Linked DNA regions of Homo sapiens: all the other regions are linked to region 1. Evidence: fine-mapped expression QTL. A gene starts in region 1. Each other region holds a variant in brackets. All regions are shown on one strand. Distances are from middle to middle. Region 1 holds the start of ABLIM1 (actin binding LIM protein 1). Region 2 overlaps ABLIM1 (actin binding LIM protein 1). Region 3 overlaps ABLIM1 (actin binding LIM protein 1). Region 4 overlaps ABLIM1 (actin binding LIM protein 1).

The links. PIP is the estimated chance that this variant, and not a neighbour inherited with it, causes the effect.
Region 2: its variant is fine-mapped to the expression of ABLIM1 in whole blood (INTERVAL, PIP 0.97).
Region 3: its variant is fine-mapped to the expression of ABLIM1 in whole blood (TOPMed, PIP 0.98).
Region 4: its variant is fine-mapped to the expression of ABLIM1 in whole blood (INTERVAL, PIP 0.91).

What each region holds. Positions count from the first base shown.
Region 1 is chr10:114,653,984-114,662,092 of GRCh38, reverse strand. ABLIM1 (actin binding LIM protein 1) reads left to right here and starts at 3,818. Exons shown (of 23, transcript NM_002313.7): 1 at 3,818-4,136. The coding sequence starts at 3,893. It overlaps LOC124902588 (small nucleolar RNA U13), which reads right to left and starts at 5,598; the gene lies at 5,499-5,598.
Region 2 is chr10:114,536,816-114,544,924 of GRCh38, reverse strand. All of the region lies in intron 6 of ABLIM1 (actin binding LIM protein 1), which reads left to right. Among named protein-coding and RNA genes, the nearest start is that of ABLIM1, 120 kb to the left of the region's middle. RefSeq lists enhancers at 612-721, 3,193-3,372, 3,723-3,772. The variant C/T (reference allele first, on the strand shown) is at 3,248.
Region 3 is chr10:114,509,730-114,517,838 of GRCh38, reverse strand. The region is part of intron 6 of ABLIM1 (actin binding LIM protein 1); the gene reads left to right. Among named protein-coding and RNA genes, the nearest start is that of AFAP1L2, 110 kb to the right of the region's middle. The variant G/A (reference allele first, on the strand shown) is at 4,380.
Region 4 is chr10:114,455,240-114,463,348 of GRCh38, reverse strand. The region is part of intron 12 of ABLIM1 (actin binding LIM protein 1); the gene reads left to right. Among named protein-coding and RNA genes, the nearest start is that of AFAP1L2, 55 kb to the right of the region's middle. RefSeq lists an enhancer at 2,908-3,409. The variant G/A (reference allele first, on the strand shown) is at 4,724.

The DNA of each region.
Region 1 (8,109 bases):
GTAGATCCTAGCAGATGATTTAAGCAGGGAGGGGATACTTGTCTGAGAAAAAAGACTTAAATCACTATATAGAATAAAGTCCATGTTCATTTGTGGAGAATCACTGTGACTGATGAAGAAAGAGCAGTAATTGAGGCATCTGTTCGCCGAGCACTGTGTAGCCCCAAAACACCTGGCTTTGGGCTGGGGCTCATCACATCAGGTGTTTATTGAGCTCCTACAGCATGCAAAGGCTGGGTGTCCTCAGTGCCCCTTGGTGAATTTTCCCACTGATGGTTCATTTTCATAGTCTATCATAGAAGAGCTTGAGTAGGTACAGTGGAACTGCTTCTAGAAAGATTAGGAATTTCCTATCTGATAAGATACACAGGCCAGCAAAATCTTGGGCAGAAGTTCAACATTTGTAATTATCATTAGCTTTGTAATGTGGTGCATTGTGATATCATATCATAGAACCATAGAAACGGTCACAAAACCCACTGCACTCCTTTGTGATTGCTGTGACTGTAGTTTTATGTGGGCTGTGGCAGAAGGCAGCAGTGAAAGACCTGAATCCACTGGTGCTTCTTTAGGGTCTTCCCCAACTGTGCTTTCCTGGGTGAAGAGGTTGCTGTCAGGCAGATACCACTGCAAGTCTATTTTTAAGACTGGAGGCTTGGCCTCTGCTAGGTATTTAACTGGAGCCATGTGGAGGAGGGTAAGTGAAAAGCTCTGAGCACTTGGGGAGTGGAACTTAGTTCACAGGTGTCTGCAGTCACTGCTGCCAGCATCTGAACTCTCATCCCTCTCCACTGCCTGAGAATGGAGTCAGCCCCCTCACATTTATATGTAGTTCGGTTGTCTTTAAAAGCAAGCAACCATTTGTTTTTCTCATTAGCCGTCTTCATGATCCATATGTAGTTTGCTTTGCATCTTGACCTAAAAAAGTATCAAAATTCTTACGTATAATTCCGTTATTGAATAAGAATTTATTTTCTTTTCCTTTTCGCAGTCTCTTAGAAGACAGTTGCATCTTGAACTAAATATATGGATCTGTAAACTTGTAAAAAAAAAAATTTAGGAGTGTTCTGTGCATGCTCTGCAGCTACAATGGCTAAGCACTGAGGTAGAGTTAATGCAGTGGAAATAGTTTTTGTGGGCAATGCTTGATGAGTTTAGGGACCAAGAAAGCCGAACAGCTTTGTTATGGAAGAGTTACCTTTTTTCCAGGTCAGGAAGATGCTGGGTTTGAAGGAAATAGTCTCTTTTCTGTCCAAAGTCTGTGTTTGTGCATTGTTACTGTGTTCCAGAGCCTGCCTTCAAAGTGGCTGTATCATGTTCCTCTATATAAACACATCTATATTTCACAAAAAGACCATGTAAGCACATATAAGCAAGTAGCTGCTCAGGTTCTCAGTTTGCAAAGAGCAGAGCTCCAGGAAACCCAGCAAGAAAGAATTAACAATGAAAGGCAGGGGTTCCCACACTACGATGTTTATTACAAAACACTCTAGAAGAACCTGGTAGGGCTGAGGTGGCCCTCGGGGATCTCCATCTTAAACAAATTGGCCCAGAAATCACATTTTGGGAAATACGGTTTTTTTTTTGATGGATGAATGCCACTTTTTTTTTTTCCAGTTGTATTTCTTTTCTTTTCTTTTTTTAAATTTCAATAGTTTTGGAGGGATCAGGTGATGTTTGATGACATGGGTAAGTTCTGTAGTGGTGCTTTCTGAGATTTTGGTGCACCCATCACCCTAGCAGTGTACACTGCACCTAATGTTTAGTCTTTTATCCCTTACCCTCATTTTGAGAAACATTGATAGAACATCTTACATTGTATATCTGAAGGTTCCTCAAAATAGGCAAACAGGGAAAAGAACACATACAGATTGTTTGACCTGCTTTGTAAACTGTTTTTAGAGGAAGACTTTGGAGGTTGGTGTTGGGCTTAATTCCCAGAATTTTGGAGCAGAAATTTTGAGGTGTGACTTCAGTAGTGGTAGAAGTCCCATGTTCCCACTTTCCCCAAGTCCACCTCAGTCTGAGTGCCTCTAGACAGCGTCTGTTTCTTCCATTCCCACCGTGCTTCACATTGGCATAGAATAATTCTAGCAAATTGGAATTCTCAGGTTCTTGAATTGTGTTGCCAATAGATTAGGAACTTGTAACAAAAGAAGCAAGAATTTCCTTTCTCTGCTTCATCTGCCTGGGGCCTTTGTGGAAGGACCCGACTATTGGATAGGAAGAGTCAGCATGGGAGGCAGAAGACCCGGCTCCACCCTAGGCTCTCTGCATTGTCCTGAGAAAGTCACATCTTCTCTGAGACTCACCTTCCTCATCTTAAAGGCTGGCGTAGATCAGTGCTTCCTGAGTGCTGGCACTAGTCTGGGAGAATGTTTAGAAATGTAAATGATGAGTTAATGGGTGCAGCACACCAACATGGCACATGTATGCATATGTACCTGCACATTGTGCACATGTATCCTAGAACTTAAAGTATAAAAAAAGAAAAGAAATGTAAGTTCCTGACCTTTACGTGCAAGAATCCCGTATATATATATTTTGTATTTTTCAAAAGTTCTACAGATTTTTTGTTTTGAGACAGAGTCTTGCCCGGTCACCTAGGAGTACAGTGGCACAATCATAGCTCACTGTAACCTCAAACTCCTGGACTCAACCAATCCTCCTGCCTCAGCCTCCCGAGTAGCTGGGACTACAGATGCATGACACCACACTTGGCCAATGTTTTAATTTTTTTTTTTTTTTCTGTAGAGACAGAGTCTTGCTATGTTGCCAGGGCTGGTCTCGAAGTGGCCTCAAGCAATCCTCCCACCTCAGCCTCCCAAAGTGCTAGGATTACAGACGTGAGCAACCGCACCTGCAGATGGTTCTTATGCACAGCAATATTTGGGAACTACTGGACTAGATTACCTTTGATGGCCTTGTCAGCTCTATAATTCTATTCTAGGGTTTTAATGAAAAGGAATTTATATTAGAACATAATAGCCCAATGACAGGAGAAGGAGTGTGAGTTTATTCATTTTGACTTGGGACTTTTGTATGGTTGTAGACGGTCACATTTTGTACTGCATCTTACTGTGTGGATGTTAAAGAGTAAATGATAATTACTGGGGTTGTCCTTTTTATATCAATACACTAATTCCATGAAGGTCCTTCTAGCTTGTAACTTTGTGTAAAGCTGAAGCTACCTACATGTTAATTCTGTCTCCATCATATGATTCTGCCATCACAGAAAACCCATGAAACATTACGACAGTAAACATTGGCTTAATGGAATGAGGCAGAAGGATTTTCCTGGTACTGAGGGGAGGGGTCCCCTTCTAGAAAATGGAAAGGAAATGATCGTTTACTATGGCTGAGAGCTGGATTTGTCACGAATTGAAGCTGAGGATCTTTATCGAGCCTTCCCCACCTCCACCTGTGAGATCTGAAATACTGGAAAACTTGGAATTATTACCCTGGGATTTTTCTGATAGACATTTTTAGATTATATAAAATATGTGTATATATCCCTAGCCCTATTCTCAGTACTCTTACCAGATGATACTGAATATTCTAGGAGTATTTGCAGGAGAATTCTTTTAGATATTGCAGTTATATTCTTTCTCTTATTCTGGATATTAATCTGATTTTCAAATATGCATTCATGTCTGAGACTGAAAGTCTCGAGTTCCTGGTAGTGGCTGTTTTTATACCTAGTCATCTGACTGAGAATATGGTGCCCTAAGCTCTTGAGGGTAATCACTTAAATACATCTCCCTTAATCTTCTTTGCTGGGCAGTGAGAAAAGGAGACAGTAAGGAGCCAGGGGAACAGAGAGAATTGTGGGGCAGCACCGCTCCTTGGGTCCCCACTCCCCATTTCTCATTGCTTGGAAATCCATGCCAAGATGCCTGCCTTCCTTGGTCTAAAGTGTCTGGGGAAATTGTGCAGCTCTGAGAAAAGCAAAGTCACCTCATCTGAGAGAACCAGTGCCAGGGGCTCGAACAGAAAGAGACTGATTGTTGAGGACCGGAGGGTCTCTGGGACCTCCTTCACCGCTCATAGGCGTGCCACTATCACTCATTTGCTGTATCTCTGTCCCAAGGACTACTGCCCACGTGGGCGTGTATGTAACAGCGTTGATCCTTTTGGTAAGTAAAATAACCCTCTCTGGACATGGTTTTGTGTTTTGTGATTGGCGTAATTAAGAGAGTACTATCCAGATCATTCTTCTGTAATGTGTTCTTCAAAGGAAACACTATCCTTAATATATAATTAATGGGGGTGAGGGTGGGAGAGATGGAGAATGTAACATAAGTGTAGCTACGGAGCTAAATCCCAAGGATATTTTTGTCCAGGATTTTATGATCTTCAGTAACAAATGTATCTCTTTCCAAACTTGGTATGAATAATTGTCAGTAATAGGAAGTATGATGGAAAAGAAAGATCTCTATCTGTAGATGTTATTATTTCATATGACAAAGGATGAATGGAAAGGAAATATTCAAGGGGGGAGATGGAGGCTAGCAAAAGATAAGTAAAGTTGAGGTCCAAATTGTGTCACTGTGTAGGGAGGGCTCGTCTTGTGAAATGTTCTAAAAAAGAAATAAAATAAAAAGAAAGTGTTTTAATATTGAGAGAACTTGTTGAGGCTTCTTTTCAGTGAAGCTCATTAAAACGTGTCACTCATCCCTCTGCCTGGGAAAGAGGTGGAGAAGGCCCACTCTGAGGATAGAGTTATTGCACTTGGGAGTTTTCAGACTTTGAAGTTATCATGGTGCCTTTGTTAATGAAGATGATACCTACCCAACTGCTCACACCTTGTCAAAGTCAGACCTAGAATTGGTACAGGAAGCAGAAGGCAATTAACCATGGTCCCTACGAATGTATGAAGTTAAGTCAAATAAGCCAGGAAGCATAACGCATTCCTCGTCATTCTTGGACAGCCAGAGTTGAATTGGATTCAGTTTAGCTGAAGTACTGGAGTTAAGATGTTCTGTTTTGTTGCAATCAGCTTTCAACAGCTTTATTGAGTTATAATTCATATGCTGTAAAATTCATCCATTTAAAGTCTATAGTTCAGCGAGTTTTAGTATGCAACTGATATGTTACATATATATTTTCATTGCCTCAAAAAGAAACCCTGTACCCTTTAGCTATCGCCTCCCCACCCCAACCTCTTCATCCCCATCTCTCAGCCTTAAGAAATCAAAATCTACTTTCTGCCTCTTAGATTTCCCTATTCTGGATATTTCATGTGAATGGAATTTATAATCTGTGGTCTTTCGTTTATGGCTTCTTTCACTTAGCATGTTTTCAGGGTTTACCCATGTTGTAGCACGTGTCAGTACTTTATTCCTTGTTATGGCCAAATACTATTTCACCGTATAGATATTCCACAATTTGTTTCTGCTTACACCAGCTGATGGACATTTGGGATGTTTCCAACTTTTGGATTTTATGAATAATGCCTCTATGCATATCCATATACAAGGTTTTTTTTTCTTTTTTCGTGTCAGATGGGTAATGTGCCAATGTCATAACAAGGTTCGAGGGTGGCTCACCTCACACACGCGTGTGTGAACACATCAAAAGGATCATCATATACAGGTTTTTATGTGGACATATGATATGTTCAGGGCTCTTGGGTGTATACCTAGGTGTGGAATTTCTGGGTCATATAATAACTATGTCTAACCTTCTGAAGGACTTCTAGATTATTTCACAAAGCAGTTACTCCATTTTACATTCCCACCAGCAGCATATTAAGGTCCCAGTTTCTCCACATCCTTGCTAACACTTGCTATTATCTGCCTTTTTTTTTTTTTTTTTTTTTTTGAGACGGAGTTTTGCTTTGTTGCCCAGGCTAGAGTGTAATGGCGTGATCTCGGCTCACTGCAACCTCTGCCTCCTGAGTTCAAATGATTCTCCTGCCTCAGCCTCCCAAGTAGTTTGGATTACCGGCATGTGCCACCACACCTGGCTAATTTTGTATTTTTAGTAGAGATGGGGTTTCACCATGTTGGCCAGGCTGGTCTGGAACTCCTGACCTCAGGTGACCTGCCTGCCTCCACCTCCCAAAGTGGTGGGATTATAGGCATGAGCCACCGCGCCCGGCCTTATCTGACTTTTTTATTCTAGCCATCCTAGTGGGTGTGAAGCGGTATCTCACTGTGCCTATACAGAGCTTTGGCTGGGACAGAGAGGGCTGACAAGCAGATCAGTGCTCAGGCAAGACAGGATACCGACTTCGACAGCTGCTGATGGTAACAGCTCCTTGTCTCTTACTCTTAACAGTCTTCTCTTCATGATTCCAGGCACATTCCTTTTTAGGGGAGCAGGGAGCGGGGATGAAGAAGCCATGCCTTCTGCCCAGTCCCCTTACAAGCTCTGCTAAGAAGACTTTGTTCAGAACCAGCTGAGTATGCCTATTGTAGCAAATGACACCTCCCTCAAAAATCAGATCCACATACTAGGGGATACCTAGAATCCCTTTATTGAGGAAAAAATGTTTTATTCCACAAATAGGAATAAAAATGAAACATGTAGATTTCTGCTGGAGCTAACACTTTATTCTGAATGACTTCGATGCTTCTATGGAATGTTTCTACTCAAACAGACTCAAATCAGATATTTTTGGAATGAGCCACTGTTGCTCTTGAAAGAGATAAGATCTGTTGGGAGGAGAAGGCAGGAAGGCAAGGGGAAGCCAGGTAAGCTGTAGTTTAATGAAAGCATGCTGGATAATGACTTATCAGCAGATTCCCTCACTTGGGAACAAGAGAATTAACAGTATCCGAGAGAGTTCTGGATACAGGAAAGGTAATCATCATTGGGATATCCATATCTTAGTGGAGGCAGATAAGGAAATCTGGGAGATTAGTTAAGTGTGGCTTTGAGGTTGGACATTCCAGAATTTGACTCCCAGCTCTTCTACTCACTAAATGTGTTACTTTGGGAAGTTAGTGATTCCAAGTGCGTTTCTCTGTCCCTAAGGTAGGCAGGGAATGCATACCTTATAGGATTGCTTTGAGCAGGCCTATCCCTAGAGTAGATGGGGCCCTGGGCAGATTTTTTTTGTAGGGCTCCTGTCTATATAAACAATTTGAGTCACCCAAAGCAGTGTGTCAACAGCTCAATCTGTTTCAGTCTTGGGAAAGAAATGCCACACCAGCCTGAGGAAGTGATTGCTTGCTAGGCTTGTCCCCTAGAATGGAGCCAGCTCCAGGGCCCCAAGAAACCCATTGGCATGACTCCTGGGGCTCCTTGGGGCATCTGGCCAACCCCTTGCACAGTATGGGAGAGATGCAGAGGATCACTAGAGAGATCTGTGAAGAGGAGGCTCAGATTCCCCATCCAGACAGCACTGCTGGCCCCAGCGATCCCAGGTACCAGAGCGCACTTAGACATTTTTGAGGAAGGAATGGGGTTAGGGCAGGGGCCCTGCTTGCGTGTGTCTAAGGGCAGTATTGATTATGAGAACTAAATGAGAACCTGGCTGGGCATGGTGGTGTGGGCCTATAGTACCAGCTACTTGAGAGGCTGAGGCAGGAGGATCACTTGGGCCTAGGAGTTCAAGACCAGCCTGGGCAAACTTGCAAGACCCTATCTCAATTTTAAAAATTGTAAAAAAAGATAAAAATAAATTTAAAGAATGAGAACGTGCATATCAAAGTGTTTGGTATAGTGGCACACAAAAGCATCCACTAAATGTTAATTTCAGTAATAATAATAGAATTGCAATATAGTCAGCATTAGTCATTTTTGACAGTCTCTATGGAGGCTGAATTAAAATAATAAAATAAGAAAAAATTGTTTATTATTGTTAAAAATAATTTCTATTGTTTGCCTTCCATGCTGTGAAACAATAGAGGCCCAGAACTATAGATGCTGCACAGGACGTGGGATTCCCAGAAAGCCACTGTGTGTTCAGAGCATCCTGTTTAGGACAGGTGCTTGGAGGAAGTGCGCCCTCCTGCAGCCATGCATGTTCCTGTGCTACGAAGCCCCAGAGTGTTCAGGAGCAGCTCCTGGCAGGGTGCTTGGGAATATTTGGCAAAGGCCTCCTCCAGCTGCCAGAAAGATCTCACGATGCTGCAGCTTCCTGTTATTGTCTGGTGCTCA
Region 2 (8,109 bases), 120 kb after region 1:
CCACCTCCTCCATCTTTTTTTCACCTGTGGAGAAAGAAAGTAGTCGCAGGTGACTATTTTCAAGAATTAAGGTGCTGCACTCTCCTCAAAGGCTCACGTGGAAATTAGAATGATGGAGAATTTGCACAGGAAAAAAAAAAGAATGATAAAGGTTCTGGTAGGAGTTATGTAGGACAGGCTATATTAGACCATTTTCATTTTTAGAAGTTAGACAAGAGTAAATGAAAAGGGTGTGAAATCATGTGTGTATACATCCATGTGTGCATGTGTGCATATGTCTATGCATGCATCTGTGGGCGTGTGCAGATTCAGGGAGCAGAGGCTCAGAATGGAAGCTAAGAAAGGAAGGGTGGGGGAAAGGTAGAGGCATTGGCTTCCCCAAACTTCAAAAACCACATCCTGTGTGACCCAGAGCACCCTGTGGCCGGGGCTGAGCTGAAGCCTGTCAAGTTCAGGTGCAACCGCCTCCAGCTAGGGAGCTTTCTTCCTGCTTTCTCAGCAGCCGCCACACAGGCTTCTGCCTCTGGGCTGAGCCAGTTCCTCTGGGGTGAGACACAGAATTCTGGGGCCAGAGTTCAGAAGGAGTCGCTACCCTACTTCTCCCAGGCCTGTGGGGTGTCAGCCAGGTCCAAGGAAGAAGTAAGACTGCCTCATCTGTGGCCCACCTGCCAGCGTGGAGAGTATGGCCCAAGCAGAGGTGGGTCAGGAAGCCCCACAACTAGGGGGATGACTACAGGTGCTGCAGCTTGTCATCTTGCTTTGTCAAGGACCAGGCTGCTAAATCCACGGAGCCATGTTCCACCTTCCCAGCAGGGCACGTTTCAGAGACACAGACACAGATCTGAGGCCCCCCTCCCCGCCACCATGGTGTTTCTGGGCTGTGCTGTCTCTTCCGTGGGGTTTCACAGCAAAGGCCCAGTGTAGCCCCCTAAATCCCACTGTAAACCCTTTCCATGAAGCACAGAGGGGCCAGCATTGGATGTGTGCTGGGACGTGGGCAGCTGATTGCATTTGGGAGAGAAGGGTGTGGTTGTGGTCAAATGCAGTTGCCTCTTAGCCCGAGGAAGAGGGTTCTGGGAAGAGGGAGCAATACCTGCAGAGGCTCAGAGGTGAGGAAAAGCACAGGATACATAAGAAACGTCAGTTGGGCACCGATGTGACAGATGATGCTGGAGAAGTGGGCAGGGTCCCAAGAGTCATATTCTGGAGTTTGGGTGTTACCCTAAAAGCGGTAGGAAGCCATTGAACTGCTTGTAGCTGGAGTGTCATGTGATTAGACCAGGTTGTTGTGTAAAGAACGTATGAGAGTTCTCAAATCTATGTACGCACGCGTTCACAGCAGCCCTATTCACATCAGCCGAAAGGTAGAAACAACCCAATGTCCATCAGCAGGTGAATGGATAACAACATGTGGTGTATCCAACTAGTGGAATATTATCCAGCCTTGAAGCAGTGCTGCCAACCACAGGATGAGCCTTTAAGTAAAAGAAACCAGCCACAAAAAGCCACATATTGTATGATGCCATTTATATAAAATATCTAGAATAGGTAAATCCATACAGATAGAAAGCAGATTGGTAGTTGCCAAAGGCTGGGGGAAGGGGAAATAGGAAATTACTGCTTTATGGATACAGGATTTCCTTTTGGGGTGATGAAAATATTTTGGAATTAGAGGAGGTGGTTGCATAGCATTGTGAATGAATGTACTAAGTGCCACTGAATTGTTCACTTTAAAATGTTTAATTTTATAGTACGTGCATTTCAGCTCAGATGTTTTTTAAATGGCTGGGAAGGGAGTTGGGGTGGAGACAGGCCAGCTAGGAGGCTACTACAGAACTTTGGGCACAAAATGATGGTGGTGCTAGCTGGAGTGGAGCCTGAGAAATGGGCCCCCACCCTCCGCACACACAGGAAGGGTGGAAAGAGTTCTCTCATAGCCTTTCCAATAAAGCTTTAATTATTGACCCAAGGACACTTCAAAACTAGTGTCTTGACCAGGGAGAAAGAAGCATATCCCCAGGAAGGCTGTTGGAGAAGGTGGATGGGACCCACCTGATGGGGAGCTTGGAGTCCGAGCGGTCCCATCACAGCGCTCAGAGTGTGATGCACAGGAGGTTGGTGCCTCCCCTCCTGGCCCTGAGTCCATCCCTCATCCCTCCCCAGAGAGCTCTTCTCAGAAGTGCCCTGATTGGGGCCTGACGCCATTTCCCTTGGGATTCCTGAGTTTGATCTCTTGTGGAGGACTGAAATAAACCTGTTGAGTTGGGGCAACTTGGAAATTTCCTTCTCCTCCTCCTTCTTCTTTCTCTTTCTTTTTTCTTCTTCTTCCTCCTTCCTCCTCCTCCTCGTCCTCCTCCCTTCTCTTCCCTCCTCCTCCCTTCTCCCTCCTCCTTCTTCCTTTCTTCCTTCTAATTTCTTCTTTCTTCCTTCTTCTTTCATCTTTCTTCCTTCTTCATCATCATCTTCTTCTTTTCTTTTTTTTTTTTCTTTTTTCTTTCTTTCTTTTTTTTTTTTAGAGACAAGGTTTTGCTCTGTTGCCCAGGCTGGAGTGCAGTGGTACAATCATACCTCACTGCAACTTTGAACTCCTGGGCTCAAGCTATCTTTCTGCACAGCCCCCTGAGTAGCTGGGACTACAGGTGCATGCCATCACACCCAACTGATTTTGTTATTTTTTGTAAAGAACGGGAGTCTCACTCTATTGTCCAGGCTGGTCTCTAACTCCTGGCCTCAGGCAATCCTCCTGCCTCAGCCTCCCAAAGTGCTGAGATTACAGGCATGAGCAACCAAGCCTGGCCCTCATAAAAAGAAACAATAGAACATCAGAATGATTTCCCAGATGTCCAGCTGTACAAAGAGAGACGAGAAAATACTGAACGTGGTCCCCACATTTGTGACAGCCGTGTTTGCAGTCTTCTTAGTCCACATGTGGAGCTGTGTTCCCCCAAAACATGCTGGGGAGGGAAAAGGGCTCTGTGTGTGTGTGTGTCTGAGTGTGTGAGTGTGTGTGTGTGTGTGTGTGTGTTGATTCCCTTCAGATTTAGCTCAACAGCTGTGGGGAAGAAAATCTAAAATAAAGCTAGATCCAAGAACATGCCATTTGGAAGAAACATGTGCTTACTCTGTTTTCTGCTTCAAGACCTGAGTCATTTGGCATTCACTGTGGCTGCAGAGACCTCTTCTCAAATTGGCTTCAGGTTTCTGTGAAGGCCGTTTTGTGAGGCCTAAGACTTGGAGACTTTCCATG[C/T]GGGGCTTTCAGAGTTGAGGCGTCTGGGAGTAGTTTGCACCATGTTCAGCCTCCACCCAGCAGACGTAGTCCTTAGATGGGCGTGTGAGCTAGAAAAACGTCCTGCAGGGTTATCACACTGACGTGTGACAGCTTGTGAGTCGGTTTGGCTTGGTTACCAACACAAAGCAGGACGGTCTCCACACACTCCTCCCTCGGCCTCTCATGCTTGGGTCTTGGTGGTGGTGAAATATTGTGATGGTGGATTTGTTGTAAATACTGTGAACCTTGGGGTTTTGTGGGTTTTTTATATTTATTTTATCCACAGATGAATTTATTTTATCCCTTTACAAATGTATTAGTTTTCTGTGTCAGCTGTAGCAGTGGTGGCTTAAAGCAACAAGCTTAAACAGTTCTTGAGGTTCTTGAGGTTAGTTCTTAAACTGAGTTCTGTCAGTTCTTGAGGTTAGACGTCTGAAAGCAAGGTGCAGGCAAGGCAATGCTGTCTCTGAAGGCTCTAGTGAAGGGCCTTTCCTCGCCTCTCCCAGTTTCCGATGGCTCTGTGTGTTGCTTGACTTGTGGCAGCCTCCCAATCTCTGGCTTTGTCTTCACATCGCCTTTTGCGTGTTGTCTCCTTTTCTCTGTTACAGTTCCCTCTGCCTCTTTCCTGTAAAGCCACTTGTCATTGGATTCAGGGCCCACCCAGATAATCCAAGATGACCTCACCATCTCAAGATCCTTTGCTTAATTACATCTGCAAAGACTCTTCTCCCAAATAAGCTAGCATTCACAGGTTCCAGGGAATTGATAGGGAGTCTCTTTTGGTGATGATCGGGTCACCATTCAAGCTGCTTGAGTAAGCCTGGGAAATCATGCACGTATCATCCCAGCGAGGCCTGCAGACCCTGTGTGGTTTTAATTTAACACTCACTGAGCCCTAAGAGGACCCTAAGGCCTCTCTAGGTGTGGTGTCACCAGAGATGCCACCAGACACCTGAGGGACCTTTGAGAAAGAGAAAGGTCACTGGACAATGATAGAGAAGAGACGCTCCAGGTCTGGCTGTGTCACTCATTCCTGAGTGACTTGGGGCAGGTTGTTCAGCCTCTTGGGGCTGTCTTCATTTCCCAGGTAAAGGGACTAGCATGTAACCTCCAGCAGCCCTCGAGTTCTCTCTGTCTCTGTCATTCCTTAATCCTTGTAAGCCCTGAAAATCACATCAGCTTGAACGGGTGGGGAGACGGGCCCGAGCACCAGCGGCTCAGTTGAAAAGGCTCTGGGTGGCAGCCAATCTGAATCTGTACTCACCAGCTGGGGCCCCTTGGGCAAGGCTTGCCACTTCTTTGAGCCTCAGTTTTCTTTTCTTTAAGTGCAAGAATTGAAAATATACGTGTAATTCCAAGACTTGGGCTGCTAGACCTCCCGGAGTCCCTTCGGCTCTAAGGATCTGAGTTCTAGAATTCTCATGTCTTGGCTGTAAGGGATCAGACAGAACCAATGGTTCTTTTTTTCTGGAAACCAGCACGTAACACTCAGCATAGAGCATACACTCAAATTGTAGCTTGATTTCTCATCACTTGTTTTCAGTTTTGTTTTCGACAGCAAGATTCTCTTTTTAGGGGGATCTTGCTATAAATGGTACATCTTCAAATGCTTCTGCTGATTAACTTATAAATTTAGGAGAGTTCTGAAGATATTTACAACCTGCCTCCTAATTAAGAAGTGCAGGGGCAAATTAGTGTGAGATACTCCAGTTTGCTCTCTCCGTCTTTTCTCCAAACTTCTCCCGCTTCCTTCTCCCCTCCTCCTCCCCCTTCCCCTGCCCCCACCTTCTTTCTGCCTAACAGCCTAATGGTAACAGGAAGCTGGAAGAGACTTCAGACCTAGGTCACTAATGTCATGGGGGAGTGGGGCATCTCTTTGGAATGCATTTCTTCCCATCTTTGGTAGATAGCCCTAGGACAGCTCTCACTCCAGCAGACATCCTTTCCAGGGTACAGGTGGTTACCTGCTAGCCTCATAAAGAAAAGAAACAGCAACAAAATGGTTGTTATTATCAACAGCAACAGCTAGTTTCAAAATGAAGGCAGCTCATGGTGGGTGTAATCAAGTAAGGACTCCCAAATTTATAAGGGGGTTAGTCTCATATCTCCAACCCTAAATTTAAGTAAGACAGCAACTGAGTTTCTTGGTCTCTGTTTACAAAGGTATAACCATCTCTAGGCACATAGCTAAAAGTAGATTGTTTTTGATGGTGCTTTCTTAAGATATGGAATCTTCTCTGGAACACCACACTCTTAATGTAATACTTCCTATACCTCTTTTTTGTTGTTGTTGTTGTTTGAGACAGAGTCTTGCTTTGTTGCCCAGGCTGGAGTGCAGTGGTATGATCTCAGCTCACTGCACCCCCCACCTCCTGGGTTCAAGTGATTCGCCTGTCTCACCCTCCTAAGTAGCTGGTATTACAGGTGCACGCCACCATGCCCAGTTAATTTTTGTATTTTTAGTAGAGATGGGGTTTCACCACGTTGGCCAGGCTGGTCCTGAACTCCTGACCTCAGGTGATCTGCCCGCCTTGGCCTCCCAAAGTGCTGGGATTATAGGCGTGAGCCACTGCGCCCAGCCCCATACCTCTTTGGATTAGATAGAGGTTGAATCTATTCTTGACAAGTGTTTGGAAAAAAAAGCAAAAGTCAAACTGAAAACAGAAGCCTGGAGGGTAAAGGAAAAGGTTTTGTCCCATGTGTTCTTCCCCTAGTCTTGGGCTGTTTTACCAACAGACTAAGGAAGGGTGGGCTTGACTTTCTCTTGGCCTCTCAAGCTGTCTTATGCAATTCCTATGCCCCCAGGGGCTACCTGTGTGCATGGAGCACTGCACTGGTTCACTCAGGACAAAGGCGCTCGGCCCTCGTCCCACACTGCAGAGTGGTACTTCCCTGAGCAGGCACCTGCCAGGCTGCACGGGAGCATTCTTTTGTTCTCCTCCCTGAAAGGAAAGTTGTCTTATGTGCATTCTGACCACAGAGGGAGAGGGCGGGGCTCTGAGTCCCACGATTTCCCTTTCCTCACATCACCGCACCCAGAAATCAGTTGGCCTGGGTTCATCTAGTCTTTCTGGGCGGGCTGGTGGCACCTGTCCTTGTGTCTCGTGGTATTTACTGTGCTACCTGTGCTCTCTGGGAACGTGCAGTGATGTCTGTGACAGCCTGTACACCCACCACATAAGAAAGAGCCTCAGATGGAGCCGAGGGAAGTCCTCTAGACCCTGGAATGCCTGTCCATTCTGCCCTACGAGGCCACCCTCCCCTGTCTTTATCTGTTAACTTGGAAAGGGTGGACAGCAGGACAGGATTTAGACTCGCTTTTAGACCCCTCCTGCTGAACTCCTGGGGTGAAGGAAATGGAATCACAATGGGATTCAGCCAAATCCTTTTCCTTGGCTCTCAGAGGAATTAAAAACTGGTGGCTCTGTTTTGTTTTGCTTTTGGACTGATTAAAAAACTGCTTTTTCACAAAGCTGAGGGGCAAATGTTTATGATGTTTCTGAGGTGAATTCACATTATAAATTGGAGGCCTTTGTCCCCTTCCTTCTTTTTGGCATAGGTATTTTAAGTATGTTATGTGGCAGTAATCATAAGCAGTGAGTAGGTCTTGTTCTGGGCTAAGCTATTCTCTAGTGAGCAAAACATAGGTTATCCTAGGATGCTTGCATGACATCTAATCTTTTTGTCACCATCAGAGATGTAATTTGCAAAAGAGAAGCTGACATGTCAATTCCCCTTTTCTTGTTCTGTGTATATCATACACTTGCAAGGAACAAATAATAACCCGTGTCCATGCTGAAGGCTAATTGCATTCTTCTCATTCTCACTGTGCTCAGAGGAATTCATGCTTTCATCCAATTAATTAATTGTAGACCCAAATATTTTTGAGGATCATGTTATCTGATCCTGTTATCTGAGTATATTGGTTGAGATGGTCTGTCCCAGTGGACAGTAAGCCACCACTGTATCCTGACTTTGTATAATATTTTTAACATCTGCAAGTGATCTCATAAACATTTAATTCTCACCACAGGCCTGCAAGCTGGTCAGGGCAGTTAGTTACTAGTCACCTTCATTTACAGATGAGGCTACTGAGTGCCCGAGACTCTGGATCTAATTGGTGTGACAGAACCATGATTAGAAAATAGATCTCTTAGGTTGGTGAATGGATACAAACATGCAGTTAGAACAAAGAAGTTCAATGTTCAGTAGCAGACTAGGGTGACTACAGTTAACCAGCAATATACTGTATATTTCAAAGTAGCTGGGAGACAGAGATGATAAATACTGAAGGTGATAAATACTCCAGATACCCTGACTTGAGCATTATACATTATATGCATGTAAAAAAATACTCATATGAACCCCATAAATATGTAAAATATTATGTATCAATAAAAGAAAAAATAAGGAAAATAGGTCTCTTTCAATTCTCAGAAGATAGGGACATACACACATAGAGACAGAGAGAGAGAGTGAGCCTGAACTTTATTATCTACCTGACAATAATCATTACAGAAAACAAATAATTTGCCCCTTGATATAACTTGCTGAAGGACCAAAAGTTACCATTCCTGGTGGATGGTAAAGGCCTGTCTCAGTGTCCCTTTTATACCTATTCTCAGGACAATAAACATGTACTGCTTGGTTGGTTTACTTTTTACCAGTGTAAAATGTCACTGAAAATCAGTGACTTTGCTCATAGAGTCTGCTGTGTTTCTGTGCCTCATAGTCTGGCCTCCTTGAAGCATCTGTAGCCTCCACCAGGCCACCTGGCTCTGCCCTTAGAGAATGTTGTAGATGGATGATGCTGTCTCAAGTTTGAGAGCATATTTTCTTCA
Region 3 (8,109 bases), 140 kb after region 1:
TTTTGTTTCAGCCTAACTTTCTGCCAGCACAGCACCACATACAGGTGACGAGCTAATAAAAGATTTGCATGATGAGGAAGGTTTCAGACAAACTTTAGCTTCAACATTGTGGTTGATTATGAGGCAATTTCTGTGAAATCCTAAAAATCCCAAGTTTTTTGTCCTGCTGTGAACACAGTTTATCGCAAAAAAGTACAGACCCACATTGTACTGTGGCCCCCCTCCCCGCCCTTTAAAGTATGCGCTGTCGTTGATGCCTTGAATTCGTTCCTAAGGATATCATAGATCACCACAAACTTGGCAGCTCAAACATGACAGAAATGTATTCTGTCACATTTCTGGAGGCCTGAAGTTTGAAATCAAAGTGTTGTCGGTGTGGAGTGGGGGTTCTTCTGGGGGCTCTGCTGGAGGGTCTGCTTCATCCTGTCCCCTGGCTTCCAGTGCTGCAGCATCCTTGGTGCTGCGTGGCTTGGAGCTGCATCGCTCCAGTCTCTGCCTTCATCTTCATGTGGGTCCAGCTTGCCCTCTTGGTCAGTTTCCTTGTCTTGTCTGGTCCCGTCCTGTCCTGTATTTTGTAAAGACTTGTCATTGGATTCAGGGCCCACCTGAATCCAGGATGGCCTTCTCTCAACACCCTTACCTTAATTACATCTGCAAAGCAGGTTGGACATATCTTTGGGGGACCACAGTTCAACTCAGCCCATGCCCTCCCATCTAAAAATCGGAGTGCTTGCTCTTCCCTCTCAGGTTTTTCCTCCTGGAGGTGAGGAAAGGGGCAAAAGCCTTGTTCTTGTCGTAATCAACAGCCCTGCTCTTTGAGGATAAAAAGCAACAACAAAAAAAAACGGAGTCCCAAGGAATGGCATCTACTATTAGTTAATCGCAGGTCCCAGAAAAGCACCAGCCAGAACTGCAAGTCTTCTAGGAAATTTCTTACTGAATTCAGCAAAATAAGAGGCTAATGAGAAGAGTGTTTGCATATCTGATAGTCTAACTGAAAGGAAACAGAGGAAGAAAAATGTGCTTTTGTAAGCCCTGAGAGTTTTAGCTGAATGGCAGCCTTTCCCTGTGATTAACTGGCATTAATTATTGTTTCAAAGAGTTTCCAAGGTTGACTGAATCCAGTGTGAAGCTCACAAAACCAACACCATCTATTTGTTTTATTTCTCAGGAGAAAGTTATATTAATGCAAAAATAAAGAATTGTGGCTGGGTTTGTGATCTGTTTTCAATAGTTTCTTTAAGGAAGCAGCTGTTTTTTGTGTTGCACAGGGTACTTGGATGCGAAACAGTTTTTGTTGTTTTGGCTTTTTTTGGAGACAGAGTCTTGCTCTGTCACCCAGGCTGGAGTGCAGTGATGCGATCTCGGCTCACTGCAACCTCTGTCTCCCCAGTTCAAGCTGTTCTCCTGCCTCAGCCTCCCTAGTAGCTGTGATTACAGCCACACACTACCATGGTTGGCTAATTTTTGTATTTTTAGTAGAGACAGGGTTTTGCCACGTTGACCAGGCTTGTCTTAAACTCCTGGCCTCAAGTGATCTGCCTGCCTTGGCCTCCCAAAGTGCTGGGATTACAGGTGTGAGCCACCACACCTGGCCGCAAAACATTTTTTATGTTTAAAATTGATACCTGCTCACCTCACTCCCTTAGACAATGTTTAAAATTGATACCTGCTCACCTCACTCCCTTAGACAATGTTTAAAATTGATACCTTGCTCACCTCACTCCCTTAGACAATGTTTAAAATTGATACCTGCTCACCTCACTCCCTTAGACAATGGCTTTGGTCGCAAGGGACAGAAACTCACCTCAAACCAGCTGTATTTTGGAGCCAGCATAACAAAGCACCACTACTTGGATGTTTTAAAAAAGACAAATTTAATTTCCAACAGCTCTGGAGGCTGGTGAAATCAAGGTGTGGGTAGAGCCATGTCCTCTCTGAGCCGGTAGAGGAAGATTTACCCTGGCCTCTTCCAGCTTCTGGCCTCTTCCAGCTTCCTTGCTTATGGCAACAAAACACCAACCTCTGCCTCTGTTTTTGCTTAGAGTTCTCCTTGTCTGTCTCCCTCCCTCTTCTGTTCTTATAAGGACATCAGTCATAGTGGATTAACAGCCCAACCTATTCCAGTATGAGCTCATTCCAACTAATTAACATCTGCAACAACCCTATTTCCAAATAAGGTCACACCCTGAGGTATTGGGAGTTAGGGCTTGAACATATCTTTTTGGGGGACACAAGTCAACCAGTAACATCAGCTGAAGCAGAAAAGAGGCTCACATAGCCAAGCCGCTGGAGGGGACAGGGCCTTAGATGTCATTAGCATCCCGTCAGCTCTGTCTGCTTATCTGTGTGTGTCATTCACACTCACGAACTCACTCTGCATGAAAAGCATAAGGCTGCAGCTCAGGGATTCTCAACCATGGTGGAAAGGGCTCTTGTACCCCCAGCTCACATCCTGAAGTCCCAGGAAGAGATTCCATCGGAATGTCACCTCTCCAGCTCTAGACCATTCACTGTGGCCAGGGAGAGGGTCACGGGAGGGAATGGCAGCTTCCACATCTGGATTTGGGGAAAGATCCCACTGCCGCACACCAAAAGCAGGGTAGCCTTGACATGGCCGCTGCGGGAATTGTGAGCTCAGGGTAGCTGGCCCAATTTGTGTGAATCTCAGAACTAACCTAATTCGAATGCAGCATTGCAGTCACGTGTCACTTAAATGACCCTTGTCATGACTTACCTTTAATGTGATTTTATGCACGCGCTCCTTCTCACCCATCCCCTGCTGCATTGACCTGGACTAAACTGCTTTCAGGTTCTGGGAGATCTCCTCAGAAGTTGTGTTAGATTTTTCATTTCTCTGGAAGGTCAGTGCATTTGCATTTGGGCAGAAACTCATGGTGACTATACTAATAATTTAATCTTTAGTCTCAAAGGACACCATGGTGGGTAGGTCTCAATGACAGGCGCTTTTCCTCTCTTTTTTAGTTTTCAATCTGAAGCTTTTAAACTTCCAAAAAGAATCACAGTAGTGTAGAAATAGTCTTAACTTCTGCTAAATGGCCTGTGGGAGGCCTGCTTCCTGTACTTTGAATACCTTTTCATAGGTTTTCATGCAGTCTGCAAGAAAAGACAGTTTTATTTCAACTATAAAAATTAATTCAGGTTGAGAGTGGTGGCCACGCCTGTAATCCCAACACTTTGGGAGATCAAGGCAGGAGGATCACTTGAGCCGAGGAGCTTGAGACCAGCCTGGGAAACATAGGGAGACCCTGTCTCTACAAAAAAAATTTTTTTAAATTAGTTGGGTATGGTGGCACATGCATCTGTAGACCCAACTACTTGGGAGGCTGAGGTGGGAGGATCACTGAGCCCGGGTGGTCGAGTCTGCAGTGAGCTGTGATCACGCCACTGCATTCCAGCCTGGGCAACATAGTGAGACCCTGTCTCACAAAAGCAATAATTCAAAGGAATGACTGCAGAAATTACAAAAACAGCTGATAATTCAGAATGCTCATTTCACTTTATTTTTTTTTTTTTTTTGAGACAGAGTCTCGCTCTGTCACCCAGCTGGAGTGCAGTGGTGCGATCTTGGCTCACCGCAATCTCCGGCTCCCCTTTCCCCCTCCCATTCAAGTGATCCGCCCACCTTGGCCTTCCAAAGTGTTAGGATTACAGGCGTGAGCCACTGCACCCGGCCTCATTTCACTTAATTATGTTTGCTTCCAGCTAGTATCGGAAAGCAACTTTTTTATTCTGTGAGTCTTAGGTGAGCAGCAGTAGAGAAACTTACCTGAGATAACTAATCTGTAGATCCTAAAAGTGATGCTTGTGGAGCCTGTAGGACAGATGCAGTTATTCCTTGAGTATAGTCATTGAGTGATGGTGTCATGTGAAAACTTTGCAGGCTTGGATGATATTTTCAGGAGTATATGTATCTTGGAAATTTGCAGTATGACCCAAACTTGGCACATCTTAATAGTCAATAAGAATTTGCAGGGGCACTAAATCCTTGCTATCTCTCTGGCAAAAGATAGATTTCTTGGTAGTGTTGGCATCGACACCTTTCATGGAAAAATCGATTGCTTGTATCTACTAGCTCTGTGCTAGACAGGAAGCACTAAGAATTCATTTGGTGGTTCTTTCATTCCTGGCTTATGAGGGATACCCTTTGCTCCTACCCGCCACCAAGGTGAATTCACCTTGACCCTGAGCATACCAGCACACAGACCAAGTTGGGCTTTGATTGCTGGTCATTTACAATAGGTTAGAAAGGGGTGAGCTGAAGCATGTCGACTAGATGAAATTGCCACAGTGTGGTATTAACCTGCTCAGGATAAATTGAGTGTGAAATTGTTACTGCCGGATGTTGCTTGCCAGTG[G/A]GGTTTCTTTTTTTTTATTTTCTTTTATGTGATAAATGTTTTTGCTTGATTTAAGAGGTGGTAGAATACTGGCTGTTACTGAAATGAAGCTAATTTCTTCCTGTTCTGAGCCATTATAGCATATCTTGCGGACATTTGAAACACATTTTTCTCCTAAGATAGCTGCATTTCTGAATGAAGAACTGATATGCTTTCTTTCTAAATTCATCACATTTCTTTCTAAATTCATCACGTTTATCAGTTAAATGTACAAGGGGTAAGAAATGAATTTTCAGCAGATTGTTGTACCTGAAAAATTACACAGAAAAGTAACTTTAGGTGAGAAAGTATCTGGTAAGTTTCTCAAAGGTTTAGGTTTTCTGGGTCTGGTTTGGTTTGGTTTGCTGGGGAAAGGGAGGATGGATGGAGGAGGATGGATGGAGAGTACAGGTGACTGTCTTCTTGACTATAGTGTAAGTGATAGGAAAAAACTCTCGAGTTTTGGTATATAAGTAATAAAAGCAAAATTCGGCTTGCTTGCTTGCTTTCTCTCTTTCTTTCTCTCTTTCTTTCCTTCCTTCCTTCCTTCCTTCCTTCCTTCCTTCCTTCCTTCCTTCCTTCCTTCTTTCCTTCCTTCCTTCCTTCCTTCCTTCTATCTGATGGAGTCTCACTCTGTCACCCAGGCTGGAATGCAGTGGCACGATCTCGGCTCACCGCAACCTCCACTTCCTGGGTTCAAGCGATTCTCCTGCCTCAGCCTCCTGAGTAGCTGGGATTCTGGGTGCACACCACCACACCCAGCTAATTTTTGTATTTGTAATAGAGACAGGGTTTCATCATGTTGCCCAGGCTGGTCTTGAACTCCTGACCTCAAGTGATCCGTCCTCCTCGGCCTCCTAAAGTGCTGGGATTACAGGCGTGAGCCACCACACCTGGCCTGGATTCTGCTATCCTTCTAATCCCAATTTACAAGTTATATCTTCCGTGAAGTCCTGCCTGACCCCTTGAATTATAGTTAGACATTGTCCCTTCCTCTGGATTCAGAAGCAGGATCTTTCACTCAATGAATGTCTATTGTCCACTTACTATTTGCACACTTCGAGAATGCAAAGATGAATAAGGTTCCTACGTAAAGCCTTTTGGCTTCTCTGCAGACTGGTCCCCAGAGGAATCAGCATGTCACGAGTGAATAAGAGGTACTCCGTGAGTGCACATTGCATTGGATTGTAACACATTTTCTTTCCCCAGTTCGCTAATTTCAGCCCTTTTTACGCACAGGAAAAAAACATCCTTTTGTTTGGGCTCCTGTCTTTAATAGACCCATTACTTTTGGAATAAGCAGCTTCCCCCCAGGAAAGTTCACCTGAGTCATCTTGTGCTCAGCACGACTGGCCTGCAGCAAGGAAGTGGTACCAAGCAGCTTTACTGTCCTAATTGGACAGAAGGAAATTGACTTGTCTTGGATGGGGATTATCCAGGTCTTTCTGCTCCAGGAAGACACTGAGAGAGCATCTGTCCACCTGAGATTGTTTGTTGATGAGAAAGTGATGCCACCGTGTTCAAGTTTGAGGGAACTGCAGAGCAAGACCTTCTGGGTCCACAGGAAAGAGAGGTCTTTAAACTTAATGATGCTCCGAACAGCTGGAAGGGGAAACTGGAGAATATGGACAGTTGGCTTTTCTGCTGAGAGTTGAGACTAGTCTCTACAGATGACCTGTTTGATGCAAACTGAAAGAATTAGAACAAGTCTTTGCCAAAATATACACTGGGAACAAAATGATAGGAAATGGGACTTTTCTAGAAAGACATGAGAAGGGGCCAGGTGTGGTGGCTCACGCCTGTAATCCCAGCACTTAGGGAGGCTGAGGCGGGTGGATCACTTGAGGTCAGGAGTTTGAGACAGCCTGGCCAACATGATGAAACTCTGTCTCTACTGAAAATACAAAAATTAGCTGGGTGTGGTGGTGCATGCCTGTAGTCCCAGCTACTCAGGAGGCTGAGGCATGAGAATCACTTGAACCTAGGAGGTGGAGGTTGCAGTGAGCCGACACTGCACCACTGCACTCCAGCCTGGGTGACAGAGCAAGACTCTGTCTCAAAAAAAAATTTTTTTAAAGAGGTGAGAAGGGTATAAAAAAAATTAAAATGAAAAACATTGCTTAGAATAGAATAAAATCTCGTGGATTCAGCAATACATCTTGCTCTTAAATATTTGTTCTGCCATTGTTCTGTGACGTTAGAATTTTCCTCAGTGATAAACTTACATTTTTTGTATACTAGTTTGAGGTATAATTGATTCTATAAACAAGAATTTAACATTTCATTCTTGTACTATGTTAACTGATTATATAATTATACTTATAATGTGCGATTATAAAAAGACAACCCCTACCTTAATGGAACTTAAACTTTAGTGGAAGACTTCAAAGATATTGATAAGTTCAAGGCACTACCTTAACAGAATAAATAAATGCTGTAGGAGCACAGAGGAGGGAGGGAACACACTCAGCTAAGACTGAAAAGACCCTGTGGCAGGGCACAATGGCTCAGGCCTGTAATCCCAGCACTTTGGGAGACTGAGGCGGGTGATCCCTTGAGCCCAGGAGTTTGAGACCAGCCTGGGCAACATGGTGAAACCCCATCTCTAATAAAAATACAAAAAGTTAGCTGGGAATGGTGGTGCATGCCTATAGTCCCAGCTACTCAAGAGACTAAGATGGGAGGATCACCTGAGCCCAGGAAGTCAAGGCTACAGTGAACCAAGATCGCATCACTGCATTCCACCCTGGGTAATGGGAGTGAGACCTTGTCTCAAAAAAAAAAATAATAAAATAAAATAAAAATAAAATCCCTAGAGAAGGTAGCAGTAGAAGCTTGGAGCATTGGTATTTTGTTATATGAAATAGACTATTTTATACAAAAAAATACCTAATATGTGTTCAACGCCCATTAGACTCTGGAAATACAAAAAATGAATGAGACAATGTCCTTGTTCCCAAGAAATTAAAGTCTAGTGGGGAAAAATCTGCTAGGTAGCCAGCAGTTATAATTCATTGCATTATATAAATGGCATGTGCTTTATATGAATATATAAATGTATATTCAAGTCAAGAAATACATGCAAATCAAAGAAAATGCCTAAGTCCAGGGGAGCTGGAGAAGGCTCATTTCAGTCTAGAAGTTTTCAACCTGGGCTACACCTTGCAATCACTTTCTCTAGAGGGGCCCCAGGCAACTATACTTTTTTAAAACTACCCTGTTGATTCTAATGCACAGAGAAGTTTGAGAGTAGCTTCTCTCAGGAAATTTAAGATGTGGGAAGGTATAGGCAGTGATATGGTTTGGCTGTGTCCCCACCCAAATCTCATCTTGAATTGTAGCTCCCATAATTCCCACATGTCATGGGAGGGACCTGGTGGAAGGTAGTTGAATCATGGGGGTGGGTCTTTTCCATGCTGTTCTCGTGGTAGTGAATAAGTCTCACAAAATCTGATGGTTTTATAAATGGGAGTTCCCCTGCACAAGTTCTCTTGCTGGCCGCCATGTAAGACGTCCCTTTGCTCTTTCTTCATCTTCCGCCATGATTGTGAGGCCTCCCCGTGTCAGCCATGTGGAACTGTGAGTCCATTCAACCTCTTTCCTTTATAAATGACCTAGTCTCAGCTATGTCTTTATTGGCAGTGTGAGAACGGACTAATACAGGCAGGTTAACATATTTGAGGCTGACGCAGAGCCCACATGGCCAAGGCAT
Region 4 (8,109 bases), 200 kb after region 1:
TACTTTGCCTCAGCCTTAGCAGGTGCACTCTTAACCCTTTCTCCTTCCTCCCTTTTCAGCCTCCTGATTAACGTTCTTTATTTTGTTTTCCCTTGGAACGATGGCACTTTCCCTGCTCCTGTGTTAATTTCTGTTCTTCTTTTCTGTTTCCACCGTGCCCTGCCCCTGACTCCTTGCTGCACAGAGCTTTTGTCTCCTGGTGTGCAGAGGTTGTCGTACCTGCGCACCAGCAGCCTCAGCCCCACCCACAGCGACTCCCGCCCCAACCCCCCTTTCCGACACCACTTCATTCCCCATATCAAAGGTAAGGAGGCAGGTTTCTCCAGGCAGCACCCTGCATAGTGGAGATTTATTAGCACCCTGGGAAGGCTAATAAGGTGTATCTCCAAGAGTTAGTGCCGAGCTTTTGAGCTCTCAGCATGCCTGCGTGTGTCATGACTATACCCAACAGTTGTCTTAGAACGGGCATAGCATCTCTCATTGGGAGAAATATGTCACTTCTAAGGGCTCTAGATGAAGAAGCAGGAAGTATGTTTAAGACCATAAGATTTATTATCCACTACTTTGAAAAAAGAAAATATATATATATATATTATTATTTTGTTTTTGGATGCATCGAAACAAAATATAATATATATAATTGGAATATTTTCCTGGGTTCAATACGCAACGTGTCTCAGCAAAACACGACAGTGTTTAGTAACAGATATCCAAAAGTTGTCTTACCGGTGATAAACCATGACCATATTAACATGTTTGGGCAGCATTAAAAGATCTATGGCAACATCAATGTTTCTCTTTGAGCCGACTCTCAGAGCAGTCATCTTTTGATTTGTCCTAACTCCCACATGATGCAGAAGAGAGGCTTTGCCTTCTGTTTTCTGTTCCTGCCTCACATTTCTGCCCCATCCCTTCTTTTTCATCATTGTCGGCAATGCTTCTGCAGCCGTCCTCAGTTGGGACTCTCCACACTGGGGGAGCCGAGAACCCTGAAGAGGCTACAAAGGGGTCATAATTTAAAATTAAGTAGGAGTTCCCAGAATGGTGCGAACTTGATTTGAACCAAATAAACCAATAATAATAGCTGAAGGAGGAAGGAGGAGGCAAGCACAGATGTTATCACAGGTCTTAAAACAGTCCTAAAGGACTCTTAACCATGTGCTGCTCCATGTGTCATGGCCCTGATGCTTCCATTGAGGAGCTTGTTCTGGTTTACTGAATTTTCGTTGTCAGTCTACCGAAGCTTTTTCTTTGTGCTCACTTGGTTGTTGAGCGGCTGAATCCTAAAAGGTACATGTACTGTACTTATCAGTATGCAGTGATTTTATAAATTTGCTAATTTCAGCATTCTCTATGTTTTGAAAATAATATTGCTTATTGAAGCAATCATGCTTATCAAAGACACACATACCTGGAGTTAAGGTACACGTGCCATTTGCCATTAGCAAATTTTTTGATAGGTGCAACACTCTCTAAAACTCTTGACAGATTATTTTACTTTATTTTATTTTTTTATTTTTTATTTGTTTTGACACAGAGTCTCACTCTGTCACCCAGGCTGGAGTACAATGGTGCAAACTTGGCTCACTGCAACCTCCACTTCCCAGGCTCAAGCGATTCTTATGCCTCAGCCTCCTGAGTAGCTGGGATTACAGGTGTGCACCACCACACCCAGCTAATTTTTGTGTTTCTGGTAGAGACTGGGTTTCACTATGTTGGCCAGGCTGGTCTCAAACTCCTGGCTTCAAGTGATCCACCCGCCTTGACCTCCTAACGTGCTGGGATTACAGGCGTGAGCTATCATGCTCAGCCGACAGATTATTTTAAATTATAAGTGCTAATTAGTATTTTGGGGGAAAATTTTTATTTATAAAATGTCAAGATTATACTTTAGAGAATGTTTATAAAATCATAAAGAAATTATGCTGTTTTTTTTTCTTAAAAAAAAAAAAAAACCCTTCAGTTGTGTATTTTAAAGAGACTTTAATATAACAGCCATTAGCCAAATTAAGATTTTGGTTATTTCTGCTGAGGTGGGCAGATTGCTTGAGCCCAGGAGTTCAAGACCAGCTTGGGCAACATGGCGAAACCCCATCTCTACCAAAAATACAAAAAAAAATTAGCCGGGCATGGTGGTGCGTGCCTGAAGTCCCAGCTACTCAGAGGCTGAAGCAGGAGGATTGCTTGAGCCCAGGAGGTGGAGGTTGCAGTGAGCTGAGATCGAGCCACTGCACTCCAGCCTAGGTGACAGAGCAAAACCCTGTCTCAAAAAAAAAACAAAAGAAAGAAAACAAAGATTTTGGTTATTTCTGATATTTAAGAAAAAATGCATTATTGATTCATTAAAATGTAAACTTCCTCACTTGGCTATTATATGTTTTAACTTGTAGAGAGATACTTTTTGTAGAAAGAAAAGTGTCACAGGCCCTATAAAGTTACACAGTTTGTCCAAATAACACAGCACAAAGTGTCCATAAATGGTCAATGACTAATACTGCTTCATGTCCATGAGTGGCCATGTGGAGAGTTGAAAAGCCCATGGGCATTGGAATCTGGGTTCAGATATGATCTCCGTCACTTGCTAGCTGTATCACCTTGGGTTGCTTATTTATCCTGTTGAGTGTCACTTGACTCCTCTATAAATCAAGAACAATGAGACTCCTACATCACGAGGTGAAGTGTCTTGGTGTGGGGCACACCCACCTTGGTCAGCATGGTGCTCTTAAATTGCTTTTTTTTGTTTTTTTGGAGACAGAGTCTCACTGTGTTGCCCAGGCTGGCATGCAGTGGCACAATCTCAGCTCACTGCAGCCTCCGCCTCCCAGCTTCAAGCGATTCTTCTGCCTCGGCCTCCTGAGTAGCTGGGATTACAGGCGTGCGCCACCACGCCTAGCTAATTTTCGTATTTTTAGTAGAGACGGGGTTTCACCATGTTGACCAGGCTGGTCTCGAACTCTTGACCTCAAATGATCTGGCCGCCTGGGGCTCCCAAAGTGCTGGGATTACAGGCGTGAGCCACCGCGCCCGACCTTAAATCATTTTTGATGCCATCATTCTGTTCACTTTTCACAGCATTCTTGGGAAATGGGCTCAGTGAGGAGACCAAGTACAGAGGCCCTGGCTAAGTAACTGTCCAGGGGCTCACCACTAGGACATGGCAGTGCTGGACTAGACCCAGGCCCCCTCCTCCCCAGGAACGCTCCTTCATATGAGGGCCATGCGTTTCAGTATAAATATGTGTGAAGATAATTTTTAAAGCACACTTTTATTTTTCATCCCTTTTAGCCAGAAAATTGCATTCTTATTGACTCTTAGACCAAGAATGATCCTCAGTCATTTAGATCACAAAATTAAGAAATATTTACTTTTCCATAGAAATATTAAATGGTTATAAAAATTATAACACCCCTATGTTCCTAAATGGTGCTTTATTAAAAATGTAGATATACATTCTTTTCTGTTTTCAGTCTGCATTTGAAGTGTTTGACACCGTCAGGTGTTCTGGATTTAAATGATAAAAAGCATTATCCAAAAGGAATTAGTGACCCTGAACTTAAAAACATCTAATAGTCTCTCTCCCTTTTTCTTTTTACTAGACGTGTGCCTATAGTTTGTTCATATGAAATAGTCTTTATGCTTCAGATGCAAAGTGTAATGTACATAACAGTATATACTTAGTTTTTCAATCATATGAGCTTTTTGCCAACCTTAAAGATAAATCATTGGCTGCTTTGGGCACACTGCCTATTGGGCAGTCCTGCTCCACAGGGAGCAGTGTAAAAAAAAAAAAAGATATGTGGTGGAGATTTTGTACATTAAAGATATTGCTTTAAAAGCCTAGTGTATTTGGCTAAATGTGGATTCTCCAAGGAATTACGTCTTAGTTATTTTGAAAAACATGCATCCATTTACATGGAAGACCTCTCCAGCACTTAGAAATTTCTGAATGGGGGGAGCCTATGGCCATTGATAACACATCCAAGATATCTTTGAGATAAGTCAATGTCTTCCAGGGTTTTTTGTGGCCCTTCATTGACTTTTATCTTGGAGCTTGTCTTGGAACTTGAGGGAGTTTTTGTTTGTTTGTTTGTTTGTTTTGTTTTGTTTTTAATGGATGTGAGCTGGGAGCTTGACCTAAGGTAGGATGTCCATCTCAGAGGCAGGGGGCGCCCTTTGCCACTCTGGCAGCCAGAAGCCCAGCCTTCCATTGCCCAAGTCCACTTCCTGTTCCTTGTTTTTGCAGCATGTGACCCAGGCCTGGGGCCTCACTGAGCTGAGGACGCCTGCATGGTTGTAAAGCTGAGATGCACGGCACAGACTGTTTCTCTCCTTCACTGGCTTCCCCATTCATTTTCCATAACATCCATTGTTGGTTGGGTGTATTTTTATTTCTGTCCTCCAAACTTCCTTGTAGCCTCATTCTATCTTAGTATATCTTTGGGCCATTTGGACAACCTTATGCCTAGAGATTTGGAAAAACCATTTTCGCTTTGTTTCGGGCTTCGTTTGTAAAGTGTCTGCTAAGTTTCTCTTGCTTCCCCTTTGAAATACTGCTAGACATGACATTCTGTGTCCATGAAGTATAAATTGGATTTCTGAGCAGGAGGGTTACATATATTAAGTTTCTTTGAAAGGAATCTTTCCTCTTTTGCTATAAATATGAGTTGCCATGATGTAAATATATATTTGACACTTGCTGAAGGAAACCGTAACTCTTATTGAC[G/A]CTTTAGACAAGAACCGGCAATCTTAAAACTGTCACAAAATTCTGGATGCTGCCAACTTATCTTAAGGTTCCCTCAAGATGTTCATTTATATTTGGGGATGTAAGCACTCTGAGTCCAGAAAGCTAGGCAGTGCTCCAACAGGTCCCCACAGCAGAATCGCACACCCCCATCTCTATTCGCTTGTCTTAGAATTAGTCACTCGGGCTCTCATGGTGCCAAAAAGAAGAATGAAAGTGGAGATGGGCATTTAAATGTGTTAAGTACAGTGAGAGTCCTGTGAGTGAATGCTCCCCTGAGGTCTAAAAAATTAGCTTACTAGGCTAACAGGAAAGGAGGTAAAAATGAAGGCCAAGAAATAGAAATAGAAACATAAATAGAAATATAGTAGCTTGTCACTACAATAGATGAGAACACTAACAACTTAGGGTAGCCCAATCTGAGGACTTAAAGGAACAAAATAGCTATGAGTGTGATATATATATATATATGTACTATTGTATTATGTGCGCACACACACACACACACACACAGAGTAGTTTTGTTTTTTGTTTTGAGGCAGAATCTCACTTTGTTGCCCCAGCTGGAGTGCAGTGGTGCAATTTCGGCTCACTGCAATCTCCACCTCCCGGGTTCAAGCAATTCTCCTGCCATAGCCTCCTGAGTAGCTGGGATTACAGATGCCTGCCACCAACACCTGGCTAATTTCTGTATTTTTAGAAGAGACAGGGTTTCACCATGTTGGCCAGGCTGGTCTCAAACTCCTGACCTCAAATAATTCACCCGCCTCAGCCTCCCAAAGTGCTGGGATTTCAGGCATAAGCCATCATGCCCATGCCCGGCCTATTATTTTTAAACAGTATCTTATTCAGGGTTGATAGATGATGACAACGATGATGATGAAAATAATGATATCTTCCAAATATGATATTTCATCTGGTGTGTCACACATTACTTTGTTTAAGTAAGGAACTATGCACAGATGGCCTCTTAGGGCCCCCATAAGTTATTTCCTGCCAGGGTTGGGTTCAAAGTTATATCATTTAAATAGGGTATTGGCCAGGTGCAGTATCTCACGCCTGTAATCCCAGCATTTTGGGAGGCCAAGGCGCCACAGATCACTTGAGGTCAGGAGTTTGAGATCAGCCTGGCCAACATGATGAAACCCCGTCTCTACTAAAAACACAAAAACTAGCTGGATGTGGTGGCGCATGTCTGTAATCCCAGCTACTTGGGAGGCTGAGGCAGGAGAATCGCTTGAACCTGGGAGGCGGAGGTTACAATGAGCCGAGACTGCACCACTGCACTACAGCCTGGGCAACAGAGCAAGACTCTGTCTCAAAAAAAAATAAAAATAAAAATAAATACAGATAAGGTGTTTAATTTAGAAAAGGGAAAGAGGCCTCTTCCTGAGAATTTTCCTTTTTCTTTTAAAAATGCCCAAAATTTGTCATGCCTTTGGTATTTCAAGGGCTAAGAATTTGGTACCTAGCAACATTATGTATTCCAAGAACTTATTCCCCGATGAGCGGTTGTGATATGTGAAAAGCACATTCTGCAGAATTGCTGAGATGGGTGTGTTATTGGGTCTCTCTTTACCTGATTTTTAAAAATGCTTTGTGGGAAGTTTTAAATGATTATAGTTACATCTGCTTACAAAATTTGAACAAAGTAGTGTTTTTTTTTTTTTTTTAAAAAAAAAACAACTAGAGAGGTGAATGTTTGCTGAAGACATCCAGCCTAATATAGAACCACACCCAACTGGTGACAGCATTCAGCCAGAATCCAGTCCTTGGGAATTCAGACAGCTACTCCATAACCTTTGAGAGGCTTTGACCATATTCAAGAAGTGAGGGGCTTCTACAGGCACTGGCCAACACAGGGTCTTGTTGATAGAAATATTTTAATCCCTGGACAAATGTCTAATTCTAATAACCTTAAAGTTTGTGTCCTGCATATGCAGATATTTTTGTGTGTGCGTGACACTGGCTAATAATGATAAAAACTGATTTAATGGGGGTTCATTTGATTGTGTATTATAACCAAAACCTACGAGAACTTTCCTGGAAACATCTGATTTTCTGCAAGGACAGTGGAGGTCTATGTGAAAGAACAAAAGCATGGGGCAGGGGGGTTCAGAAGCAGTAGTAAAAGTTGAGACCCATTATACCTTCTTTCGAGAAAAGACCGTAAGAATGATTCTGTTTTTCAGTTATGGATTACTCTTGTTAATTTCTAATGTTCATAGGATTAAATCATTTTTCTTCAGTGAAACATTTATATTGGAGTTGTCAAAGATTAGCTGTAATGGGAAACTTATAAAAGGGGTGTTGTTGTGAGCCCAGTGCTGTACACAGGTCTTTACTTATCATCATCATTTACTTGGAAACTGTGACTTAAGTGAATTGAAATATTAAAAAAACTAGTTTTTCCCCTCATCAGTGTTCTAGGTTGAAATAAACGACGTTCTTCAAGGACCTGCTATATGTTGTTTTGCTTAAAGTTGCAGTTTCCAGCCGGGTGCGGTGGCTCACGCCTGTAATCCTAGCACTTTGGGAGGCCGAGGCGGGTGGATCACGAGGTCAGGAGATTGAGACCATCCTGGCTAACATGGTGAAACCCCGTCTCTACTAAAAAAATTCAAAAAATTAGCCGGGCGCGGTGGCGGGCGCCTGTAGTCCCAGCTACTCAGGAGGGTGAGGCGGGAGAATGGCGTGAACCCAGGAGGCGGAGCTTGCAGTGAGCCAAGATCGCGCCACTGCACTCCAGCCTGGGCGACAGAGCGAGACTCCGTCTCAAAAAAAAAAAAAAAAAAGTTGCAGTTTCCTGTAACCTGTTGATATTAAGTGAGGACTTATTGCACTAGCATCTGGCTTCCTTTAATTTAGAGAAAATTGATGGTGAATCTTGCCATGGTGCTTGCTAAATTAGGCCAATAAATAGCTGTGGAGGTAATTAATTGGCCTCCTTCAATCATTCATTCACAGACATTTATTAAGCACTTACTCCTGGCCAGGCGATACCCTGAGCACTGATGATGACAAATGAGACCAAGTTTTAATTCAGCAACAGGTTTAAAACACTATTTCCTTCTAAATGCAAATTATAATCTTCCTTCCCCTGTTTTCCTCTGTGTTTTTTATACTCATTTTTTCCCGATAGGAACTAGTTACTTCTCTTTAGGAGAGGGATAAATGAGATAACATTTTTATAAATTAGCTTTTTAATAGATCAATAGTTTGGGATGATATTTCATAATTTTTAGGAACTAATATATGACTTAAATAATAAAGTCAACATTATAACATATTTGGGTCTGGATGCTAAACCAGCTCTTGAGAAGAAAAGACAAAAGTTTCAGAACACCAATAACCAAAAGCCAGAAATC